Linked DNA regions of Homo sapiens: all the other regions are linked to region 3. The links come from fine-mapping of genetic effects on gene expression. A gene starts in region 3. Each other region holds a variant in brackets. All regions are shown on one strand. Distances are between the middles of the regions. Region 1 overlaps INPP4B (inositol polyphosphate-4-phosphatase type II B). Region 2 overlaps INPP4B (inositol polyphosphate-4-phosphatase type II B). Region 3 holds the start of INPP4B (inositol polyphosphate-4-phosphatase type II B).

Region 1 (8,000 bases), 440 kb before region 3:
AAAGACAAGTTATTTTGTCATTTGTTCGTTCTAGTAAATTACCAATGCATTGCTTAATAATCTCAGGTATGTGCTTCTTAATGACAGAGGATGGTAATGCAGCATTGCTACAGACTATGAACTAACTTATTTCAGCTGTTCATTCAAATCCAGAGATGGGGCGGGGGTGGGGGGGAGGGAGAGAGAGAGCAAGAGCGAGCGAGCCAGCAAGAGAGAGAGAGAGAGAGAGATTAATGTAGGCACACAGCATCTCACCTCCACAATTTCGGTGCTGGAGTATCTTGTCAGACTCTGCTCCACGGGGTGGATTACGGAGATCTGCACCAGTGTATTCAGTTTACGATCACGGACAGGAGCCACGAGATCCTTGCATGCTGGCAACGGCAGAGGAGACAGAAAGAAAAGAAACTAACACCATATCTCAGGGAAAACTTCTGCGCCGGGCTGAAAGTGAACTTAGCTACAGCACTGAAGGAAATCTCCTGGGGCTCAGGCTGGTTTTACAGAGGAAGTCCCTTGGAAGTACCTTACAGAAATAGGAAGTCACGTGCTGTGGAGCTGAATTGAGAGTTCATTTCCACTGACCACATTTGCAGTTCATGCAAGTCTTTACTGGTCTGAGATCCCAGCTCTAATGCGTGACTATGCACACATGGCTCAGAAACCTCAGTGACTTTAATTAGCCATTAAGCCCTGGGCTTTAAGTCACACTCCTTGAGGATGTGAAAGTTGATTTGGGCCATATCTGGGAAACTTTGGTGTTCCTTATTGACATGGGTTGGATTAGATCAAGTGTTTGAATTCATACTTGGTCCTTACCTATGTATTCACTAGAACTGGCCTCCCACAGTAATACACACCAACAGAAACAAGGAGAGCAGTTTCTCAACCACAACAGCACACAAGCAGGGGAAGAGGAAGCAGAGGTAGGATTTTTAAAGCCCTGGTCTGGAATTCAAGCTAAGCCTGGAGGAGATGGGTTAATTCTTGCCCAGGGGCCACAAAAGTTAAAAACTTTCCCTTGAGACACCAGGCTCATATTACAGACCCTCGCCACCATACCATATTTACTTGAATATTTTCTCCTCTCACATATCATTCCCCCAATTTGAGGAAGAAAAATCCAGAAAAATATTCCTTTTAAGCAAGTCTGAATCGACTTTCCTCTCTATCCCCGCCACCCTCGCCTCCCACCTTTGAAATAATAATTTTACTCCCTTCAGCTGAGTTGCTGAGATGTAAAGTGCCCTCACTAGAGGTGGTTCAAGTTAAATTCGGCTGGTGGCTTGCTGCAGGCTGGAGCTATGGATGGGGGAAGTAGCCCTGGGTCCTTGATTTCATGGTGAGGGCATGCAGGGTTCTATACCATCCCTACCCCACTTCTCAGACCATAACAGGAAGGGAGAGAAAGATGAGGTATTTAAGGTATGTTGTGGTCAGAGCTTGCAAGGTCCTTACCATTGGTAACAAAGGTAATATGGCTTAAATCTGAAACTTGAAAGCAAAGGAAAGTATAGATGCAATTATCACCTTTCAATTGTTTACAGATAATCTCTTTCAGAAGTACAAGGAGATAGAAAAAGCAGGAACTTCGGAATGAAACAGGCTTGGTTTTAGTCCAGTTCAAATAGCTAGGCAACACTGGGAAAATTATTTAACTGCTTAACTTCTTACCAGACTTTCAGATCCTGCTGCTTCTGTATGGCGTTTTGTCATATACTTTTTTTTCCTTATATAAACCACATGCCTCTAGTAACAGAAGAGAGCTTATGAAAGCATGTATGGAAAAAACATAATAGCTACAATGTATTTAACCCTTACTATTTTTGAGGCATTTTGCTAATTATCTCTCTATTCCTTAAAATGGTGCTTTGAATTATTTCAGTTTTACATAGAACTAGAACTAGAGGCTTGGAAACATGAAGTGCTCACATTTACATTACTAGAATTCTCTGGTAGCTTACATCCTACCCCACTGGCTTCATTTCTCTTCTTGGCATGCCGACCTGCCCTCCTGCACAATGGCACCTCTCTTTGGAAGACCCACCGCCACACCACGATTATTACTCAACCCAAGAGACTTAGAGTTTTAAAAAATACTGGTGCCAGGTTTCAATAATGTCAACGTATCACCGGAAGGAAAGAAAAAGCTAGATTTAGATTTTCACTGTTCTTTGGTGGTTATTTTGATCATTTCCTTTACTTGCAATATGAATGTGTTTAATTTTATTGCTCATAAAATTCAACTGTTGGTTTTCTGCTTACAGTAAACAGCTCTTTTTCCGTTTCCTGATATTGACATATATCTATCAGAATTTTAAAGCTGAGGCCACTGTGTTTCAAATACAGGCATCTTGCCCACTTTCTGCTTGTAGCCCCATCTTTTACCTTGTGAGCTCATGACACCTTTGCTCAAAATAAGTCACTTCTTTTCTGAGTTCTTATCAGACTTGATTGTGGGCTGTGGTTATTTCCCAGAAATGAGCAGCTGTTCTCCATTTTATCAGAGAGACTCTCACCCTCGTTCCCCATAAAAACAGAGAAAATTTCTATTACACTGAAATGTTCTGTCCAACCCAATTTGCACATTCCCTAATACTGATAAAAATAATGATGATGCTTTGTATTTTTATTATATTCCACATCTAAAAACAATACGGTTACATCTTGTCAGGAAAACAATAATAGTTACATCTTGGGCTGCACTTTTTTCTTCCTACAGCTCAGAGGATTTACTGTACCCTAAGTCTTATGCAGCATGATATCCTGGAGAGAACCCGAGATCAGGCAGAATTCCTAAGCTGTGCTCCCAGATTTCCTGCTTTCTAGTTCTGTGGCACTGAGTAAGTCACAAACTCTGACACTTAATTGCCTCATCTATCTACCTACCTCTCAGGGTGGAAGTGAGGAAATTGGGCCTTTTTATAAATGGACTTTTCTATGCAAAAAAAAAGTTTACTAATATCATACTAATATATATTAATATCAACATTTACCAATATCTGGTGTTTTATTATTGTGTAAAATTGTTTTTATTGACTCAGTCATACTCAGCTTTTTAAAAGCTGTTACCAGGTCCAATATTTCTTCATAAATAC[C/T]AAATTAGTACATGAGTCATTGCATTTCATAAGGTGAAACCTATTCACATCATGGATCTGTACATACTGAATCAGTCCCACCAGACGGCTGATAAATAATGAGTGATTGGATTGTTTTGTGAAGATATTACTCATATGATCACTATAAAATCTAATCCGTATGAGAATTATTTAGCAGCCAATAAAGAATCCTGAAAAATCTGTTTTCAGGAAAAAAAAAAAGTGAATGGGTGAGGTGGCTTATGCCTGGAATCCCAGCAATTTGAGAGGCCGAGGCCAGGATGACCTGACATCAGGAATTCCAGACCAGCCTGGCCAACATGACGAAACCCCATCTCTATTAAAAATACAAAAATTAGCTGGGCGTGGTGGCACACTCCTGTAGTGCCAGCTACTTGGGAGGCTGAGGCACAAGAATTGCTTGAACCCCAGGGGCGGAGGTTGCAGTGAGCTGAGATCACACCACTGCACTCCAGCCTGGGTGACAGAATGAGACTCTGTCTCATAAATAAATAAAAAGTTATATCTGTCTTCCAGCTATACTTACCACTGCTCATTAACCAAATATAATTCTACTCTAGGAGTGGCCTGCATCTGTGGCCTTCATCAGCTCAGAAGACTAAAAGAAAGCAATGCTTTGGGATTTTGCTTCTGTTTCGTTTTGTTTATTTAAGAATTCTACCCACTTCAATCTAATGGTCAGTAACAAACAAATGCTACTGCAATCCTTCATTCATCAGTAGATTTTTAATTTCTGCCTTCTTAATGGCTTTGCTTAGTATTGAATTGTTTAAAAGTGTTCTTAGACCTCAGAAGAGTTTAAATATGCAGGATGTTGATAGATGGGGATTCTAGTGTGCTTGTATCCAGTGTATTTTTTATTGAAATGTGGGAAAAATAATAATACAGAAGGAATATATTTTTAAACCATAATTTGTGACTTGTCATCAGAAAAAAAATAAAGAGCAATAAGTGACTTTTTATTTCCTGATTACTTTTGCTATGGTAACTAGTAACATGAGGGTTCACATTCTACTATGAGTAGCTGTGAGTGAGATGCCTACAGGCATCCCCAGCTCATATTTGTACAGGAGCCAGGCAGTTTTCACTCTACGAGAAGGAAATCCTCAGTGGAAGCATAATAATAAAAATAAATGGAGGGGGCCACATGCGGTGGCTCACGCCTGTAATCCCAGCACTTTGGGAGGCCAAGGAGGGCAGATTGCTTGAGGTCAGGAGTTCGAGACCAGCCTGGCCAACATGGCAAAACCCCATCTCTACTAAAAATACAAAAATTAGCTGGCCATGGTGGTGGGTGCCTTTAATCCCAGCTACTCGGAGGGCTGAGGTGGGAGAGTCGCTTGAACCCGGGAAGCGGAGGTTGCAGTGAGCCGAGATTGCGTCATTGTGCTCTAGCCTGGGCAACAGAGCGAGACTCCTTCTCAAAAAATAATAAATAAATAAATAAATAAATAAAGAGACTCAATATCTCCGGTGACTGAGACTCTATCTCAAAAAATAATAAACAAATAAAGACTCAATATGTCCAGGGAGGGCTAGGCACTGAACAAACTGGAAAGCTTACACTATGTCATAAGATGGAACCTCTATACAAAGTCATTGCCTGAAAAAATGAAGGCCCACTGTGTCCTTGATTTTAGGATTTCTCCAAAGCTTGAAATCCCCAGTCACTGTGCAGGTGAACACTGGAACAGCTGCACAAAATACATCTGTTTGATAGATTTGGCCAGAAGTTTTTCTGAGGAATAGAAATTGCCAAATTCTAGTCTTGACGCTTACAGCTACTACCTAGCCTCTTAGGAAGAGGGCACAGATTTTCTTCTGCTCCAGTAGTTCTCACTGGAGAGTCCAGAGCTAAAAGGTGGGACTCTTCAGGATTTTTGTGAAATCAAAGATACTGTCTATACCAAAATACTGCTTTTTATAAAATATCAGTTTCTGTTTCCTGTGGCCATTATTTCAAAATCAGGTGAAGGCTATTGAGTCCATGATCATTTCTATCATTCCAACCAATTTTGGCTGGAAGCCTAAAAATACCTCTTGATTCACATCAGAGAGCTCAGTCTCAGCAATAATCAATTTGAAGTAGAACACAACTGTTCATTCAGGTGCTTTTGAGTTCAGCAACACTGCTCGAATTCAAGTAGTTGTAAAGCATACATTAGACAAGGGGGGTGTCAACAAGCAGATGCCTGCCCCAGGCTTTCACGAGAGTGGTGGTGTGAACCACTGAGGCACTGTGAATTGGTGGTCAACCCCAAGTGACCATCTCTTTCCCCCTAAGAAAACTTTCTTCTGTGAAGTGAGGTCTTTTCTCTTGCCTCACTCTTACTTCATCTCTCTTCTTGCCATTCATTGTTAATGGAATCTAACAAAATTTATCCTCTTTCTTCCAGAACAAAGCAGTGGCCACAGGTGCGTGGGAATCAGTGAGGGGGATATGACAAGAATTTCCACATCTCTACAATTCTGTACTCAAAATTAGCCAAAGGAAATTTAGACTTAGAGGAGAAACCACATACCATAGTGTATGGAGGATAAAGAAATTTTTTTTAACTTAAGATAAAACCTTATTTGAGAGAGCTATATATGACTTTGGATGAATTACTCAATCTCTTTGAATCTCTATTCTAGCATCTGCAAAATGGAAGTAAAAGAATGTACTTCATAAATTTGCTATAAAGACAATAAGGTAATGTATATAGAATGCTAATATATGAGTCCCTTTAAATTATTATTGACATTAATATATAGTTATACTGTGCATTAACACAAAAAATGGATTTTATCTATCCTATATTTTTATACTAATCATATGCTCAAGATATTCCAGATTGGTCCTAATTTTATATAAAGTTATTCTTTTTTCAATAAAAGCATTTGTTAAATATATACCTGTGATTTTTTTCACCTTATTTTCAGATAGCTAAATATACATTTTTAAAAGCTCTTTACTAGATCATGTGTTAATTGTGAAAATCAGAGGCATCATTAATATGCTGCTTTCTGTGAAATCAGATGTGTACACTTGCACTTGTAATTTTCACCTCTAATGAGGTACTTCCAAATGAGAAACTTACAATGGAGAAAGCAAACTTGACTTTCTCTCTCCCAGCATATGTGCTACATGTAAATGGTCAACTCACCCTTTAAGCAGGGGTTTAACTAGGAGGTTAGGGTTCCATTACTCAGTGGATGATGGCCCACAGGGGAGCACTTGCTTAACTACTGAGATGTCCCAAAGGGTCAGGGAAAGAGTTGCTTCTCTGCTCTGTACATTTCCTTCATCAAAAAGGAAGACTATGGATGCTAATAAAGCTTCTTTTTCTTGCAATTAAAACTAAATGTTACAGCTAGAGCCCAATATAGTCTGATAGAAGCATACCTTCGAATCTAATGAAAGCTCACCTCTTATGCCCTCTACAGACACTGCATAGGAGAAATGGGAGAGATAAATCCATGCCTGTTAAGAGCAAAAAGGGCCAGAGTACAGAGGACATTGGCATCCTAGAATAGAAAAGTGGCCTTAATACAAACAGGGGCCAGGCACAGTGGCTAATGCCTGTAATCCCAGCACTTTGGGAGGCCCAGGCAGGCGGATCACTTGAGGTCAGAAGTTTGAGACCAGCCTGGCCAACATCGCACAACTCCATCTCTACAAAAAATACAAAAATTAGCTGGGCATGGTGATGCGCGTTTGTAATCCCAGCTACTCGGGAGGCTGAGGCACGAGGATCACTTGAACCAGGGAGGCAGAGATTGCAGTGAGCTGAGATTGCACCACTGCACTCTAGCCTGGGTGACAGAGTGAGACTCTGTCTCAAAAACAAAACAAAAAAACCCAGAGCTTTAGGGAAATACCATTTGGCTTCCCACCTCCCTCAATAGCACCATTCTTATCTCACATCATTTCCCTAAGGATGTGCAAAAGACTTTTGCAGCCTAGGGGGCAGTTTTTTATTCAGAAATTCTTAATGTTTGTTCAGGTTTCTCAAAACTGTCACATATATGTCCTTCCTCTTTGTACTTCAGAAAATTAGATTCCACTAATCAACTGATAAGCCAATTTAGGTTATGTTTCCAGTCCAATAAATTATTGGACTCCATTATATGGTTTCACAGTTAACATTCTATACCAGTGATTACATCTAGATTAAATCAGTTTATATCATACATTAAAAGATATATAGAGCACTTAAAAAGCCTAATAGCCCCTCTAATTACTTTATTAGTATAATATGCTTTTCTATTTTTAATCTCCTTTGCCTTTTTTTGTTTTTTATTCTTCCTTCCCCTCAAGAATTTTAAGACAGCAATTTTCTGAAGCCTAGGATGTCAACCTCTCCAGCTCAGATCTCCTGAGTACATTCAGAAGAGGATGCTTCCTAGGCTCAGTGCACTACAATCCATGATAATTCAATTATATATAGTAAAATGACAGAATGTACAGTGTCCCTGCCTATACTAATATCCACACAATGAGAATTGCACAAGCAGTTGGAAATACTCTCTTCACTACTATCTGTTTATGGTTATTTCTTAGAAGAATATGTCTCTATATCATGCTGAGTTGATTTATGGCCATGAATATATATCCTCCCATCTTTCTTCTGTATTCTCTGTAAAATCTTTGAGTCTTTAATTCATTGAGAGTAGCTCTCATCTTGTCCTTCCTCTCATTTTAGCTTATTTTCAATCGGGCAAGCCTGCTTTTTATAATTTTCCTTTGACATTATTCTTTTTTCTTCTCTTCTCTGCCATCTCATATTTCCTCTCCAACATATGTGTTACTCTCATCACTCTGAAAGACGAGGTTATCAAAGTCACCACTCATATATTTTATAAGACTTGGGACTCTAGGAGTCAAGCACACACTGCTCT
Region 2 (8,143 bases), 150 kb before region 3:
AATCCAAAACCTAGACACTGTGGATCAGATGACAGATCAAGTTCAAGGAGAGCCAGCTGGGACTAGGAGAATTAGACAGGTGCCCCTGGATTGAGCAAGAAAATGTTGAGTATTGACAAAGTTATCAGACGAGGAAAGGTTAGAAAGGTCCCAGGAGCCTAGAAGGGCAGTGTTTACAGTCCAGGAAGTCAAATAATGACACCAGCATATTCGATGGATTAAGGCACACTCTGATTCTAAAACAGATCATTTCCTCTGTGCCCTTTTCCATGTGTCTGATAAGACAGAGAGTGTGCCTGGTCCTACTAGCATTTATACCATCCTCAAGGGGCCAGAAAGCCCCAGGAGAACTTTCCAAGAGATCCTCATGCAACAACCCACCTTGTTCCATAACTGTGCCCAGCAGCTCAAGGGAACAATTATAAACAAGGATACCACCCCCAAAGAGTAATAAAATCTAGCTGAGGGGACAAAATATACACAAACATCAGTGCAAGGCACTAACTGACCCAGGCTGTAATTCTGTGGTACAGATACTCCCTTTCCCCACCCCAGCCCTGACATCTGTCTCCTACACAAACTACACCTTCAGTGCTTGCCCAACTTTGTTGCTTACTTCACTGCTTACACCCACTTAAACTGGGTCATCCTGGCATCTGCAGTGCCCACTCAACCCTGCGTCCCTCTGCCTTGCCATCAGCTACTACTTATGTTGTTCTCCAAACATTTCAAAACCAGGCACTACACAGCCATCGACTTCTGATCCTAATTCACCATGTCCTTTACAGCCAGCCAGTAGAGAGGCTCAGTAAGAGGGCAAATTGGATAACACCAAGGCTGTCCAAGAAAAGCAGGTTTATAGTTCCATTCTTTTATTGTAAAATTACTTATTAAATTACTTCCCTTTGCATGTTTTACTTGTTTTTATAACAGTGCTTTCCTCTAGCAAGGAAGTAGATAAAACCACAGTGTGCAGCCCCGCACACTCCACTGTATGTGTTTATTCTTAGAATGGTAAGTCAGAGAGAGTGGAACACTGGCAAGCTTTCACCTGCTTTTAGTTTAAAAGGATGTCAGTTACAGTTTATTATCCCAATGATGCATTTTTAAAAATTCTTACAATCATATTATATACATGTGATGTTGATGTCAATCATAAGCAGCCTAAGTTACATTGTTATTAAAATTACCTGTTGTACAATGCTTCATATTTTCCAGGAAAAGGAGACATTTAAATTATATGGTTTTGGTGAAAACACATCGGTAACTGAACATGGGATGAACAACCTCTATATCATTCTCCCTTTTAATACTGTTAGGCTTTCCCCAACCCACACCAATGCCATCAACCTTGCTCCCAGAAAAGCTACCTAAATTCTCTGAGTTGCCATTCATAAAAACAGAGTCTGGGATCAACTGTGAAAGTGAATTATATACATGAGTGAATAAATCAAAATAATACTCTAACGAAATAGGTAAGCCAAGTTTATTGTTTCTGGCAGTAGGCTTTAACCATGTGATAATGTTCTGTTGATTTTCTCTTAAAAATGTCATCCAATTACATAAAACTGTCAATCAATCTTAATCAAACAAGATTTGGACAATGGATTCTTGCTGGGCTTTTCTATATGATTAAACGATAGGAACTTATTTGCTTTATTACTTTATATGGCCAAAGCATATACTGGAAACCTACAAGAAAAACAGGAGACAAAGGTGAGCTACAAGCAAGGAACTGAAGAAAATGCAGCCATGGAAATTTCCCAATATCATGAGTTATTCAGATTTCCAAGCTGGATCAAGTAGAAATCCTAGAACATGAGGCATGGGTAAAAGTTCTTAAATAGGGCCAAGACATTACAAATCCCTTTCTAGGCCATGACTTACTTAAATCACATTTTGTTCCTGTATTCATATGTAAATAACAATAATAATAAAATCCTTATCAGATAAACTCAGAGTTTTAAAGACTACATTTGAGAATTTCAAATTCCTAGAATACTGAATATTTAACAAAACAAGGGCTATAATTTAAGGTTAGCTTCTTATAATATGAAACATGCTTGAATTTAAAAAGAGTATAATGCAAGAAGACTGGCTGTGAAAATTTTAAAATTCTAATCTGCTTATAAAACACTCAAGCTGAAATAAATCTTGGCTGTAATTAAGATAAGTAACCACAGCTATAGGGCTACTGTTAGCATGAACATGCCCTTACCAGTAAGAGAAAACAATTAAGTTACAGATCTTACAAGTTATAAACAATTTTTTTCTGAAACAAATCCATCATTTTTATTGATTTGAAATCAATAGAGTTTTCATAAATTATTTCTCATAGAAAAAAAGACATACGAGATTAATTTTTAAATCTTAGCACTGAAAGGGTAGGTCACCATTTCTCCTTCCAGTGTTATTCTTGTCATAACTATTTGAGATTTCAATATCCACAGATATGATCTTGCCTTTTGTCTTAAATGATTGTCTCCACTTTATTAGGACTATTCATTTTCATTACCAGACCCTAGATCTTGTCACTACCAATATCTGGACTTTCTGCAGATCTCAATCACAAGCATCTCATTTCCTAATTTTTCTAACTCCCATTCTGTGTCCAACAATCTTTAAGCTGCATCAGGGTCTACTGAGGAATCTGGGTTTTGGCTAAAAACCTACTGTGATCTTTCAGGCCTAACCCCAGGCAGTTACAAAGACTTTTCCTGGCAGACCTGAACTACCTTCCTCATACCAGACTTGGTGTGCAGCTAGTGCATTGCTGAAAGGAGTTGCAGTCACAGACTCAAGCCCCCAGGGCTGGCCATGCTCTTATGCATATCCGTGTTCTTAGCTCAGCAAGAAGGCCTTCAGGAACCTCTGCTAAGAACTTATCATTTGGAGGAGCTGAAGGGGAACCTTGAAGACACTTTTCTCCACTCTAGCTCAATAATTTTTTACTCCTACCCCTTCCTTTTCACCCTTTTCCCTGGGCCCCTAGTATATAAAACTAAAGGAGACTTTTGTTCAAGACTCCCTCAGCAGTAAAGCAATTCCCCACATGTATTGATTCACTTGACCCTCAGATATCCAGTACTGTTTCACGGGTAAAATGGACAGAGGTGGTGCATGGGTGGGGTGGAAGTGGGAAGTGGTAGAGACAGTGGTCAGAACTTTCTCTGGTTTAGCTTCTTGCTTATACTATCACAGTGAGTGATTAAATGTTAGAGCACTATTTCATTGTGGTTTATTGTCATAATCAGCTATTCTGAAGCATGGTAGCACAGCACAGCTCTCTCCAGCTCAGCTTGGCCCCTGACATCTACAATCCATTGTACAACCACCTTTTCAATATACCTTCCCTCCTCATGTCCTCATTTCCATTCTTATCCAGCTTAAATGTCATGGTTGTTTATTGCATTCAGCCATATCTTTATACCTCAAACTACCATGACTCTCTTGTGCTTCATTATGCTCACTTGGGAAAATCATGAGCTTGGTAATCACAGAGCTTGGTAAATCACAGAGCTCCACCTACTCTGTCCTTTTACCTGTGTGGTTGAATGTGTCTGGAGAAAATCCCATAACCATACTGGCCAGCGTTGCTTTATATCCATGATCTTTATCTTCAATGGCAAATATATTATACATCCCTGATCCATTCACTCATGCATATACCTCAAATTCTATTAAATACTTTTGTCTCCTATTAAACATCTGACACCCCCTCCATCTTTATGTCTCTCTGACACTGTGCTTCCTATTTCAGTAAGAAAATATAAGCAACTGGAAGATATGCAAGCTCCCATCAAAAGGTATGCAATATCTAGACCCTTTTAACAACCTCATCTG[C/T]ACTTGTATATCTTGCCTCTTCTCCATCATTGTGAGTCAACTCTATATGCATTTGTCTAAAACTAACTCCAATTTATACTAAATCTCAACTCCTCTTGCCTACTCAAGGGCATCATTTTAGCATTTTTTTTCTACAGTTTTCCCCTCTCCACCAGTTCTTTTTCATCAGCATACAAACAATCTATTACTTCTCCCATCTTAAAAGAACAAAACAAAAAAATTTTATTCAGCAACCACCCTCTTTCTCTCTCTCCCTGTATAGTAAAGCATCTTACTAGATTTGCCTATACTCATGGTTTTCAAATTTTCTTCTCCAATCCTTTCTTGAAACCATTCCAATCAAGCTTTGGGACTCATCACTTTATCAAAAGTCTGATGATGCCAAGTAGTATCTTCTAAAACCGCAACAGGGAGAAAAAAAACCTAGTGTCACAATAAATGAGGAATTTGAACAATACATGGATATGGGTAATAATAAACTTTTTATTATTTACAATGAAGGCACCAAATTTAACTTAAATAATGAGAGCACTAGTTGGACACATTTTATGGCTTCTCTTTTCCATAAATTCACAGTACTGAGTTGAATATGGTTTTTATAATTCTTTTTTGTGCTGTATCTTGTATTCCTTCAACTCAATCTATAGGAATTGAAGATGAAACCAGTCAATCAGATTCCTATAGAATTGTACTTATTTCCATCGTAGGATAGAGAATTACTTCTTTTCTTCAAAGTATCTGTTCTAAATTCTATTAACCCCTTCATTCCATCTTTTGGGAAAGAAAAGAGCAATCTTATTTAAGAAAACAGCTAGTCATTGTACACTTGCCCAATTTTTAACTCATTTTTGCCCTGTCTTATTTGCATGAAATTTTTTTTTTATTTTTTGCAGCAGGTGCATTTTCCTATCTCAGATTATAATCTTTTCTTAGAAGTAGGTCACATGACCTTTCTGTGAAATTATGTGTGGTTTTGTGTTTGTGCATCAGTGAAATGAATTTATATTTTTATACCAGCTTTCAGTATAAAAACTATCTGGGCCAAGGATTATTAGATAATATTATACCTAAAATATTATAAAATATTGATACCCAGATGATTTAAACATTTATTATCTCAGAACACATTATGGTTAAGATCATGTATCAGTCAGGGCTATAGATCAAAAACAAAAGAAACAGGCTCTGGCTACCTTAATCCATAAGAAAATTTATTGGAAAGATAACAGCATTAATGAAAGGCTAGAAGGCCAGTCTTGGGGAACTGGTGGGAGGAATGGAGCCCCAAGAAAGTAGGAATCACAGAAAAGTTTATATGGCAAGAGCAAACTGGTCTGCTTGCCACTCCTGGAGCAGCCTCTACTTGAAAGTTTCAGAAAAGTGCAGGTGGTAAACAAGGTATGTCATAATTACCACTGACTGTTCCAAAGAGGAGAGGATATCCCACCCATTTGGTCTCCATACTGGTTAGTAGGTACTCCCTCCTGCCAGCCTCTCCACAGTAGGAGATGCCCCAAAACAGAGGGTGGAAATGATGTATTATAGCCAGGAGAATGAGGAAGGTCAACTCTAAGGCTCCTTAAAGGAATGCCACATGGATCCAATCAGGTCAAGGGCAGCCACACTCTAACTGGTGCAATCAGGCTGGCATGATCATCAGATACATGCTGAAAATGAAAAATAATAACAAGCAGCACCGAGCAGCCAAAAAAAAAAAAAAGGTTTCATGGAAAGAAAAAGGGATTTGTCTTGGTAACAGTTTGGGCTTGTTTCTATTTCACCAAATACATATTAATATATATGAAATTGTAGAATTTTTTGTTAAACACTAGTTTGAAAGACCATTTCTTCTACTAGATACCTTCCTGAACCATTGCTTATAATCAAGCTCAGGAGTAAGGAGTTAGTACCTCTACCTTGATGTGCAGAGGACACAGTCGACTATGGAGAGCCTGAAAATCTGGTACTGTAGGTGATAAACCCTTCTAGACATCTATCAAATAGACACTTGGGTAGGTTGACTACACAGGTGAACTACAGAAGTTTCTCAAAATTGAATGAACACAATAAATATTTGTATTTACTCAAATATTCTAGATATTTTGATGTCTACTATACTATATATACTAGTACTAAAAATGTACTCACATTTATTACATATTATGAGAGTTCAACACAAAATGAACTAGGTGAAATCAGACTACTGGAAAGAGTTAGGCTCCCACTCACACTGAAGCTTAGCCAAGTCAAGCCTAAGTTAGGAGCCTGAGCAATCTGTTAGCAGTCTTACCAATACAAGGTTTTCCTGGCTTGTAACCCCACACACAGACCCTGTCATCTTTTCTGTGCTTTCATGGCTTTGTCCTCTTTAAGCTTTAGTAGTTTCTTTAAAAAAAAAAAAATCATTCTTTCAAGTTCAAATTGTTTGTTACAATTGGACACAAAAGACTCCATATAGGCACTGGGTAAAGTTGATTTCTTGTGTGTGGTTCACAGAATTCTTGTTGATGAGACCCTCTTAAAAATCATCTACTCTTCTTTATTCCAGTCTTTAGCATATTCCAGAAAGCCTAATTACTTATTGCAAAAACATAAAAATAGAAATCTCTTCACTAGATTATGATTTAAAGCATGAACTTCGAGGCCAGGCGCGGTGGCTCACGCCTGTACTCCCAGCAATTTGGGAGGCCAAGGCGGGCAGATAACCTGAGGTTGGGAGTTCGAGACCAGCTTGACCAACAATGGAGAAACCCCATCTCTACTAAAATTGAAATACAAAATTAGCTGGGCGTGGTGGTGCATGCCTGTAATCCCAGCTACTCGGGAGGCTGAGGCAGGAGAATCACTTGAACCTGGGAGGCGGAGGTTGCGGTGAGCCGAGATCACGCCATTGCACTCCAGCCTGAGCAACAAAATTAAAACTCCGTCTCAAAAAAAAAAAAAAAAAAAAAAAAGAACTTTGAATTTACTTTGGGTTCACAAACTATAACATTTTTAAATAAAGATTGATTTCTGCAAAAAAAAATTTCCCTAATTTGGTTGCATAGCATTAGTGATTTTGCTGCTGACTACATCTGAAGTTAGATAACATTGAAGATGTTTTTATCAACAAGTGCTAATATCTATCATGTTGAAGAAAAACTAGTTTATCTAGAGCACTTGCTCTGGAATTAATAAGATGTGAGTTTAAGCTTGGCTCAGAAACTTAGTAGCCATGTTATTTTGTGCAAGTTACTTAACTTCTATCAGCTCGATTTCCTCACCTGCCAAAGGAAGACAATATGTAATGATTAAAAGGAAGAGATTGTGAAAAAACTTGGTACAGAACCTGTTACTCTCTCTCCTGCCCTCTTTGTGAGTCTTTCAAGGCCATTTTTATCCATTAGTTAATGTAAATGAAACTCTCACAATGTCCTCAACTTGTTGTATTGGCCCTTCCAAACACAGCCACTTTCTCACAAATAACAAGTATGTATTTGAAATCTCAGAATTTTAAATTAATAAATAGTTTTCCATTTTTAAAAAGATAAATACCTTACAATAATGATAATACATTCTGCAGCAAGTTAGATTCAATGGTTAGGTCACAATACTATTATGGCAGAAGTACTATTAAAGGAACATTATGAGGGGCAGAGATGACAATGCCAGCCTTAAACAGATTGTTAAGAAGGCTAGAGAGAACAAGAGCTTCAGGAGAATAAAAGAAAAATGTGCTCCCAAATTTAGTGATGAGTCCAGGGAGTCCCATTAAACAAATTAGCAGGTTTGGAACATAGGGTTTGATGTTTATGGGTATATAAATAAAAAGCTTGTTTTCTCTGGGGCAGCTTAATTTACTACAGCATGTCTCATCGTTTCTGAAAGAATGAATGTTGCAATTATTAGTACCCCAAAGAATTAGTTCATCCTGGGATAAAAATGGGCTCCTCTCTGAGGGCAGAATGCATTGGTACCAAACTCTGGAGCATAAAGAAGACCAGATGCATTCCAGTAGGTAAAGGGGGCTAACTCAGGAAACAAGTGAACTAGCAGCACCAGACTAGTAACTCAGAAGAGTGGCTGATTTCTGGAGCTCCACCATTTGGTGCACCCCAGTATGAGAACATTACCTTCAAAGTGTGGAAGGAGATGGTGTATCCAAAATCTGGCACTTAACTAGCCAGGAGCAAGGACTGACCTTAGAAGCAAAATGGGGTGGTACCTCCCCAAAACCAATGAGAGTGTGTCGGTAGGAATATCTATTAGAAGAAGCTGTGTTTCACAGAGCAGAGGACTCAAGGCCTCACCAGCAACACAG
Region 3 (8,357 bases):
TTTTATTTTCCCAGCATTGAATAGTTTTTGTGTTTTGGTTGTTCTAATGGCAAGAGCTCATCTCTGATCTTTTGGCTAAGAAAGCAAAGCCCCATGAAAATGAATGAGAACCATTTTGAAAGAACTAAAGGAAAGATTGCTATTGATGGTCAGGGAGTATATTCTATTTAATTCATTGTATTCTAAAATGGTAGTCCCCAAGTCTGATCTACTTAATGCACTACAACTATCTATTCTAAGAACTAAGGTGAAAGGTGAAAGGCTCATATTTCTGTCAAATTTTTCATAGTAAAAAATATTAAGAGGATTCCTTGTAAATCATTGTTGCTTAACATTTAAAAACTCACACTCTCTTTTGAGAAACATAAAAATCTCGAAGTTCTCCTTCAAAGCTATTTAAAATATATAAATAAATGATCTATTATAAACAACTAGTAAATGAAAATTTTTAAAAATCATATTTTTCTTTTGATCTTGGAAGATGCTTTACATTGATGCTGTTACTCCAATCATTAGAAGTCAGCATGACAATTAAAGTTGTCTGTGTATCTCGCAAACTTTTCTATCCTTGTAAAACAACAAAGAAAAACAATTGAGTAATTTCACCATTGTTTTTTGTATTGCTTTATTTTCATAACCAGAAGAGTATGTAAAGATAGATAGATAGACACAGATAGATAGATTGATAGATAGATCGATAGACAGATAGATAGATACAGGCTCTCCTTTTAAGGGAGGAGATGTTGCCTTCATTCCCTTGAATATTATTGATTTAGATAATTCCCAAAGAAATGTATAACCAAAACCACATGATTTGAAAAACTTCTCAAAATTTCCTTTAATCAGTTTAAACAAATTACTGCCAATTCTATTTCACTTAGTTCTTCATAGGGCTATTTAAAATCAGGACACCAAGTTGGCATGGCTGCCTAATACAGAAGATAGAATTTACTCAAAATACTGCAACTCAAGAAACTCAGTTTGAAATATATTATTTAAGGACATATACTGTATTGAAACCCAATTCACATCATGCTGGAATGACATCTATTATAATAGCTAATGTTTGGTGAAATTACACAGTCCATTGAAAAAAATCTAAAGTTCTGGCTCCTAGATATTCCATTGGCCTTATGGTATACCATTGATAGCAAGATACTTCCAAGAAATAAGAAATAAGATAGTGAGTACAACTGTGCCTTATTTAAAAAACTATTACATATATTATATTATAATATATACAATATCTATTATATATAATATATAATATATGATATATAAGATAGTTATTGTATTATTATATGTATAATATATAATATATTTATATATAATAATCCTAACATAATATATTATGTTAATATATAACATAATATAATATTAATATATTAATATAATATATAATATATAAATATAATATATTAATATATTATAATATTAATATAATATATAATATATCTATAATAATCCTAACATAATATACTGATATATAAATATATAATTATATATAAATATGTATGATATATATAAATTTATATATCATATATATCAAAATATATATAAATAATGATATATATAAATATATATGATTATTATATATTTATATATAATAATATATATACTATATATAATATACTGGATATATATAAATATACATATATAAATTATATATAATGTAGTCCATAAAATTTCCTAAACATTTTAAATGTTTCTTTTAATCTACAAGGTAGTGAAAATATATTTAAAAAAATAAACTAACACAGTTTGATTCAAGTGACCATTGTGCCTGAGACTGAAAGAGTAATTAAAATTTTTGCACATATCTTAATGTCTTTTCTAGGTATATACTGATCTTTTCTAGGTATATACTGCTCTAAAGTTTTAGAACACAAAGACTACATGTATCTTGCACAACAAAATTCAATCATAGCATCATCACTTGGATTCATCTAAAAATAAATGTTTAAACTAAAATTATTTAATAATCTCATTTCTGAAGCCTAAATATTATAGTATATATGATTAGAGTATGCTCTAAAGAGCTCTCTAATCAAAGGTTTCTAGCTCAACATTTTTTAAAAGTATTAACAAAGTGGCCTATGGAAAAGATTCCTTAAGGCTTTAGAAAGATATACAGGACATGTTGAAAAACTAAGGTACATAATACAGAAGAGACTCACACAGCTTTCACCTGAACATTTAACTTGAGATTATTTAAAACAGGGCATTTCTATCTATTAAAATCCCCATAGTTGTGAAAGACAAAAATTTATTTTGTACAGATTAGGTATGATATTTGTATATCTAATATTAGTACTACTGGGCATCACTCAGTATGAAATAAGAAAATGTAATAGATATTCAGTAAGCATTTTACTCACTAATTATGATTCCATAATTTCTTAACTTTTTGTTCTCAGATGTCAAATACTTACCTAGAAACTGCCACTCATTTGGTTGCTATGAGTTTTAAGATCAGTTAGCAGGTTTTTTTTCTGTCTTTCAGAGAATTGTCATCTTGGGTTCTCCCTCAAGGTAGTGAAAGTTAACTTTGTTACCCATCTGGGGATTTATAGTACTTATACTAGAAGATGCTCCAAGGTTTCAGAAAGGAATTAATTACTTTCAATTTGCACAATTTAGAACAAATATCTGGCTTTTCCCTAAGCTTAATGATTTTCCATTTCACACAACTAAAATATAATAGCATTATTTTATAATCAAGTTTAACTGATGGTCTATGATAGTAGAGCGATTTAGTATTTTGACAAAAATCTTATGAGACATGAAGTCATTCAATTTGCAGCCCCAAACTGAAGCTCAAACACAACATTTTAAAAGTATTTTCTGCCTATACCTTTGACTGCATGCTACTTTAAATAGAGGGACAAGACTAAATGGTCTATCTGGTTGTTCTTACACTTTATAAAGAGTCAAAAGCAAATTTGAGTTATAAATATGCACATCATAGTGATCATTATTTTATCACAAATAAATATTGATTTGCTTAATCAAAGAGAATACTCTCCTAGAATAAGAGCAGTATTTCAATCTGCAAACATGTTTCTTAATGTCACTGAGCATTTAGCCTATCTTCACACACACATTTCATAACCTTTCAAGGACAATCTTCTACATCACATTTTAAGGAAATACACTGAAAAAGCAATCCATTTTGCAATAGCATTTTACATTACTACAAATTCACGAGGTTCAACCTTCAATGCCCATGTACCTTTCACAAAACTATTGATCATTTCCTATCAATGCTTTACAGGATTATATCACAAAGGAACACATAATGCATGTATGTGCATCAATGCGTAAAGGAGAGGATGCATTTCTGTGCATAGTATGTGAACTGACAATGCCCACTTGCCCAGTCCTTGCTTTACTCAACTTCTTACACATCATCAGCCAGCTGCCCTGTTGATGATTCCTTGCACCTTATGCGCTGCTTTATCATTGAGTCAGATTACTACCATTTCTGGTCCAGAACTCATTAAGAAAAGTCCTTTTTCAAGCAAGGTCTTTGAAATGTAGTTGTACACCTATAAAAGAACTATCTGGAGCTCATCTTGAGAGAGAGAAGATGAATTTATCCTCTGTCTTTAGGCTTTTACTTACAGAGCCACACCTTTATAAACAAGTTCTGTCTGTCATACTGACAGGAAGGAGATATGCAAAATGTAACATCTGGAGTCATAAAATATAATGACCTCAAATAACATTCCAGAAAGAGAAAGGAAAACTAGTTCTGGTTAGGGAGAAGATAAAAGAGGAAAAGGAGTAAATTTACATCCTTAAAACAAGAGTAATAGAAAACCCTACCGGGTTTTTCCAGTAAGTTTTGTGCAGCAGCAGCAACAACCTAATCAATATGTGCTTCCTCACCCTCTTGTCCCCAAAGAGAAACTGCTGGGCCCCTCTCCACCGACTCCCCAGGAGCAGAAACTACTGCCCCCAAGGAAGGGAGAATTCAGAAGCGTGGGGAGGGGGAAAAACAGGTATATGTGGTTCTAGCATCCTCATCTTCATATCAGCTACCAGCCTGAAACTACATTCAGGAACCAGGCTCCCAGACATTCCCCGGCCCTGGGCCCTGCCTGAGCGCCAGAGAGCTTGAGGAGCCTGCAGCATAGTTCTCAGACCCGAAACAATGACCTCCCCCGTCCAAACCCAGGCACTCTTGCGCCAAGGCCCTAACCTCTCAGCGAGACCTCTTTGGGGAAGGACAAGAGATGCTGCCTGATGGCCGAGAGAAGACATGCCAGGCTTCTCTGCCAGAATGAGTTGTTGAGGGTGGGATGAAGGTGGTCAAGGAGATGGGCTCTTTATTTTTAAAACAAAAAACAAGGCAACCGGGACCACCAACATCAGTCACCCTCACTCCCCACCACTGCCTCTATTCCTTAAGGACTTCTTCCCAGGCCGGCGGCGGCGGCGGCGGCGGCGGCGGCAGCTTGCGATCATCAGGATTGGAAGTGAGAGCGAGTGCCCGGGCCAACCTCAGCGTCTCTCAGGGACAGCGCAGGTGGGCGCAGCCTTGGAAGGTCAGCGAGGCCAGAGCTCAGAGTTCCACGGGGGCCCGGAGAGTGTGCGTGTGTGAGTGAGAATGCGAAAACGCGCGCGCGCCGGGCAGAGGGGCGCTCGGCGAGAGGGTAGGCGCGGTGACAGGGGTACCCCAGCAGCCGAGGAGAGACAGCCCACCCCACCCTTTAAGCTAAAGAGCTGGAGGGGTGATGGAGGCTGCAAGACGGAGAAACTTGATGCAAAACAGACAGGCTCCCCCCTCCAAGACGTGCCGCCACGCTCTCAGACACGCTCCCTCGCCTCCCGGATTACCCACCATCAACCACCCCACCCTGCAAAATTCCCCCACCGAGCCCTAGGATCCCAGGCGGGTAATTACCTCTCCCGGAGGCGGAGTGGGGGGCGGCAGCAGCAGCAGACACTTTTAGCCTGACTTTCCTGCGTTCGCTTGCGAGCGTGTGAGCGTGTGCGCGCCCAGGAGGAGCTGTAACCTGCTATTTATAGACCGAAGCCTCAGTACCCGGGGCTGAGAACCCGGAGGAAACTAGCAGGCGGCGGCGACGGCGCAGGGCGCCGGCCGCGGCTTCGCGAGGCTCCAGCAGCTCCCCCAGCCTCTGGCTTCGGCCGCGCTCCCTGCTCGCTCCTCGCCTACCAGCCCCGCGCGCGCCCCAGAGAAGTTGTCACCAGCGCGGCTGGCTCTCCGGCTGCTCACACGCCCCCTGGCACAATTGCTACTTTCTTCCACCCCAACCCCCACCCTCCCCGCTCCTCTTCCTCCTCCTCTGCTCTCTCCAAGCGGTCTCCTCCCAATGTCACCAGCGACCGAGTAGAGGCGGCCGTGGCAGCGACAGTCGCGCAACTGGCGCTGCTCGCTTCCCGCTACTGATAGAGCGGAGATGGTGGCCCGGCTGCCCACCCCGAAATTACCACGCTGGCTCCGTGTGCTCACACCCCGTACCCCGACCCCTTTCTGCGGCCCCTCTGCCCGCTGGGTCGCCCACCCAGACTGGGCTGTGGGATCACCGCTACCGCGACGAGGGGGGACCCGAGGCCGCCACGCTGCTGCGGGGGCAGGAGAAACCACAGAGAAAGAACCCGCGGGAGGAAGAAAGCGCCCCAGACCCCGGCCTATGGCAGCGCAGTCCCTAGACCGAGGGTTTTTGGAAGGGGCTTGGGATCCCTGCTGTCACTGCCTGCGTCTAGGCATCCATTCACGCCTGCTGGACCCCAGTCTGCAGCCGCGCTGGGACCCCTGTCTCTTGCCCCTCCTCCCCCTTGCCCCGGGCAGAGGTCGGGCTGAGGAGACCAGCTTAGAGCAGCCCTCGGCCACCCACCGCCAGTTCCCACGTCGCGGCGGGTGACTGAGGCCGAGATGCTCCCAACTAGCGTATGACATGCCTTTGATATCCCGGGTGCGTGGGGACAAATCCGCCCTGAATGTGTTGGGGTATCAGGAAAACGGGGTATGTAAGCAAGCAGTCTGGACGGAGACTAAAACTCCCCCACTTCCTAGCCCCTAACAAGCCCACAGGGGAAAGCACGCACCCTGGTTATTCCGGGCTGTGTAGGGTGTGGGGCAAATGACTCTCCCCATCTGCGCTTTACAGGTGCCACCTGGCGGCTCTCTCGGAAAGGTTTTGATGGAGCCGTTCAAAGGTAAAGGTGCCCAGAGCCAGCCCATCAAGACACCCCAGCCCTTCTCCCTGAGGGCGCTTTAAAATCACATTTTAAGTAAAGCAGTGTACGAATGCTTGTACACAAGTGTTACATTTGCCATGCAAAAAGACTGGAATCTCAAAGTCAGGACAGTGAAATCAATTTGGGTTAAGTCGGGGCTTAACAGTTTCACAAACCAGGAAGCTGTATGTACCCCCAGCTGTCACCCCTGCTGTCACTGCCCGCATCTAGGCATCCTTTCACTCCTCAAACCTTTGACCACCACATTATAAGCCTTGCCAATGAGGACAGGGACTTTGGGTTTGTTTTGTTTTGTTTTGTTTTGTTTTGTTTGGTGGGGGGAGTTGTTTGTTCGTTTCATTTATTTTTTTCATCACTCTGCTCCCAGAGCTTGGGACAATACCTAATATTCTGTAGTTTCAATAAATGTTTATAGAATCAAATAATAAACACTATAGGCCAGAAACTGCTTGGCGCCCCCGAAGCCCTTCCTTTTGCTTCTCTTCAAGCTTTTTCTCCTATGCTCAGCCTCTACCCCAAGTGAGCTGAATGCAGAGAGATAGGAGAGTGAGGAACAAATAATCCCTGTCAAGATGTGGATCAGCTTTGAGAAGCCTTCACACAGTTAGATTTCTCCTCCATGGGGCAGCACTGAACACACCCATCTCCAAGCAATGGGTAAGCCGTGTTCATAGAGATCTGCTGGAAAGATGATACAACTTTCTCACTGGGCAGTTTCTGATTTTTCTCACAATAGAGAGAGATTGAAATAATATCAGGACATTAGGATGTCAGAGCTTTGCTACTAAATTGGAAATATGGTTAACATATCTGTCCTCTAAGTGGAAGAGTGTGTGTGTGTGTGTGTCTGTGCGTGTGTGTGTTTATGAAGACTACAGCAGCAATGCCAGAAATACCAAACCATACCTCCTAAAAGACTGAGTTGTAAAATAAATGCAGTTACTGATTCTATGGAAATGGACGTTTAAAGTGAGATGCTTAGAGGACCCTATTATAATTAAAGTCCAGACATGGACCATGCTGACAAAGTCCTTTTACAGGGCGGCTGAAGAATATGTGACTTACTTGTGTACATCACGTAGGAAGTTTGAATTCTCAGAAAAGAGAGAATATGAATCAGGATGCCATCAGATGCATGTACCACAAGGCATTTTTAAAAATCCATCAATCATCCTGATATTTACCTTTTTTAGTTATTTGGTGGCTTTTTCCTTGAATAAGCCTGGAGGATTCAGATGCTTCCGTGGTTTAATAAACTCATTCAGCATTCACTTTTACAAACCTTGAACTTTTGCTGACTTGTACCCCCAAAACATAACTCCATTTGCCAATGAAGGACAAAATATTTTTCATTTCCTTTTGAAATATCTTTGTAGGGCCAGAAGTCAAAGGTGATTCCCTGTAGTTACCTTGCTGTCTAAAGCAATAAAATCAAGCCAGGATCTACAGGGTTGGTGTCACACTCGCCTTTGCAGTGAAGCAGCCTACACTCTCTCCATAGATTCATTGTTCCTCTAGATTTTTATCTCAGGTGAGATTAATATGACATCATATCTACTTTTATGATCCTTCACTATTCAAAATCTCTTCTAGAATATAGCACCAAGCATCATATAGGTTTTTTAATGCTTACTCAGTTATGTTAACAATAACTTGTAAAGTAAGTCCTTGTTTTCATCTCAATTTTTAAAAACTTAAAAATTACAGAAACTTTGTTATGTATACATTAGCATCATCTCTTGTGTGTATATTGTGTGTGTATGTCTGTGTGTATTTAAATTAAGGGGGATGTTGTTAGAAATAAGAACTAAAGTAAAAAGGATAAATTATTGTAAAGATACTTGGCTGCCCCATGGAACCCCAAAACAAGAATGCAACTGGGCACTAGGAATGACTGGAAACAGACAGGCCATTAGAACTTTCTCTGTCTCTTTTCCCCCACTACATTAACTGTCCCATTCTGTATCTCTCTCCCTCTTTCTCTCTCTCCCCACATACATTGTCTCACTCTCTGCTTCTCTGGTGTGCACTAAATTGCATGGTGGCTAACGACTCTTAAACTTTATAACTTGTGAACCAGTTCCAAATTCTCCAAGTACTGTGATTCTTCCAGCTACCAAACCCCAGCC

Evidence for each region.
Region 1: its variant is fine-mapped to the expression of INPP4B in fibroblasts (GTEx, PIP 0.98).
Region 2: its variant is fine-mapped to the expression of INPP4B in whole blood (INTERVAL, PIP 0.97).

Annotation. Positions count from the first base shown.
Region 1 is chr4:142,404,951-142,412,950 of GRCh38, forward strand. It overlaps INPP4B (inositol polyphosphate-4-phosphatase type II B), which reads right to left. Exons shown (of 26, transcript NM_001101669.3): 6 at 256-374. Among named protein-coding and RNA genes, the nearest start is that of INPP4B, 440 kb to the right of the region's middle. The variant C/T (reference allele first, on the strand shown) is at 3,099.
Region 2 is chr4:142,695,958-142,704,100 of GRCh38, forward strand. All of the region lies in intron 2 of INPP4B (inositol polyphosphate-4-phosphatase type II B), which reads right to left. Among named protein-coding and RNA genes, the nearest start is that of INPP4B, 150 kb to the right of the region's middle. The variant C/T (reference allele first, on the strand shown) is at 3,844.
Region 3 is chr4:142,841,300-142,849,656 of GRCh38, forward strand. It overlaps INPP4B (inositol polyphosphate-4-phosphatase type II B), which reads right to left and starts at 5,002. Exons shown (of 26, transcript NM_001101669.3): 1 at 4,910-5,002. The region is part of intron 3 of USP38-DT (USP38 divergent transcript); the gene reads right to left. RefSeq lists an enhancer at 5,759-6,345.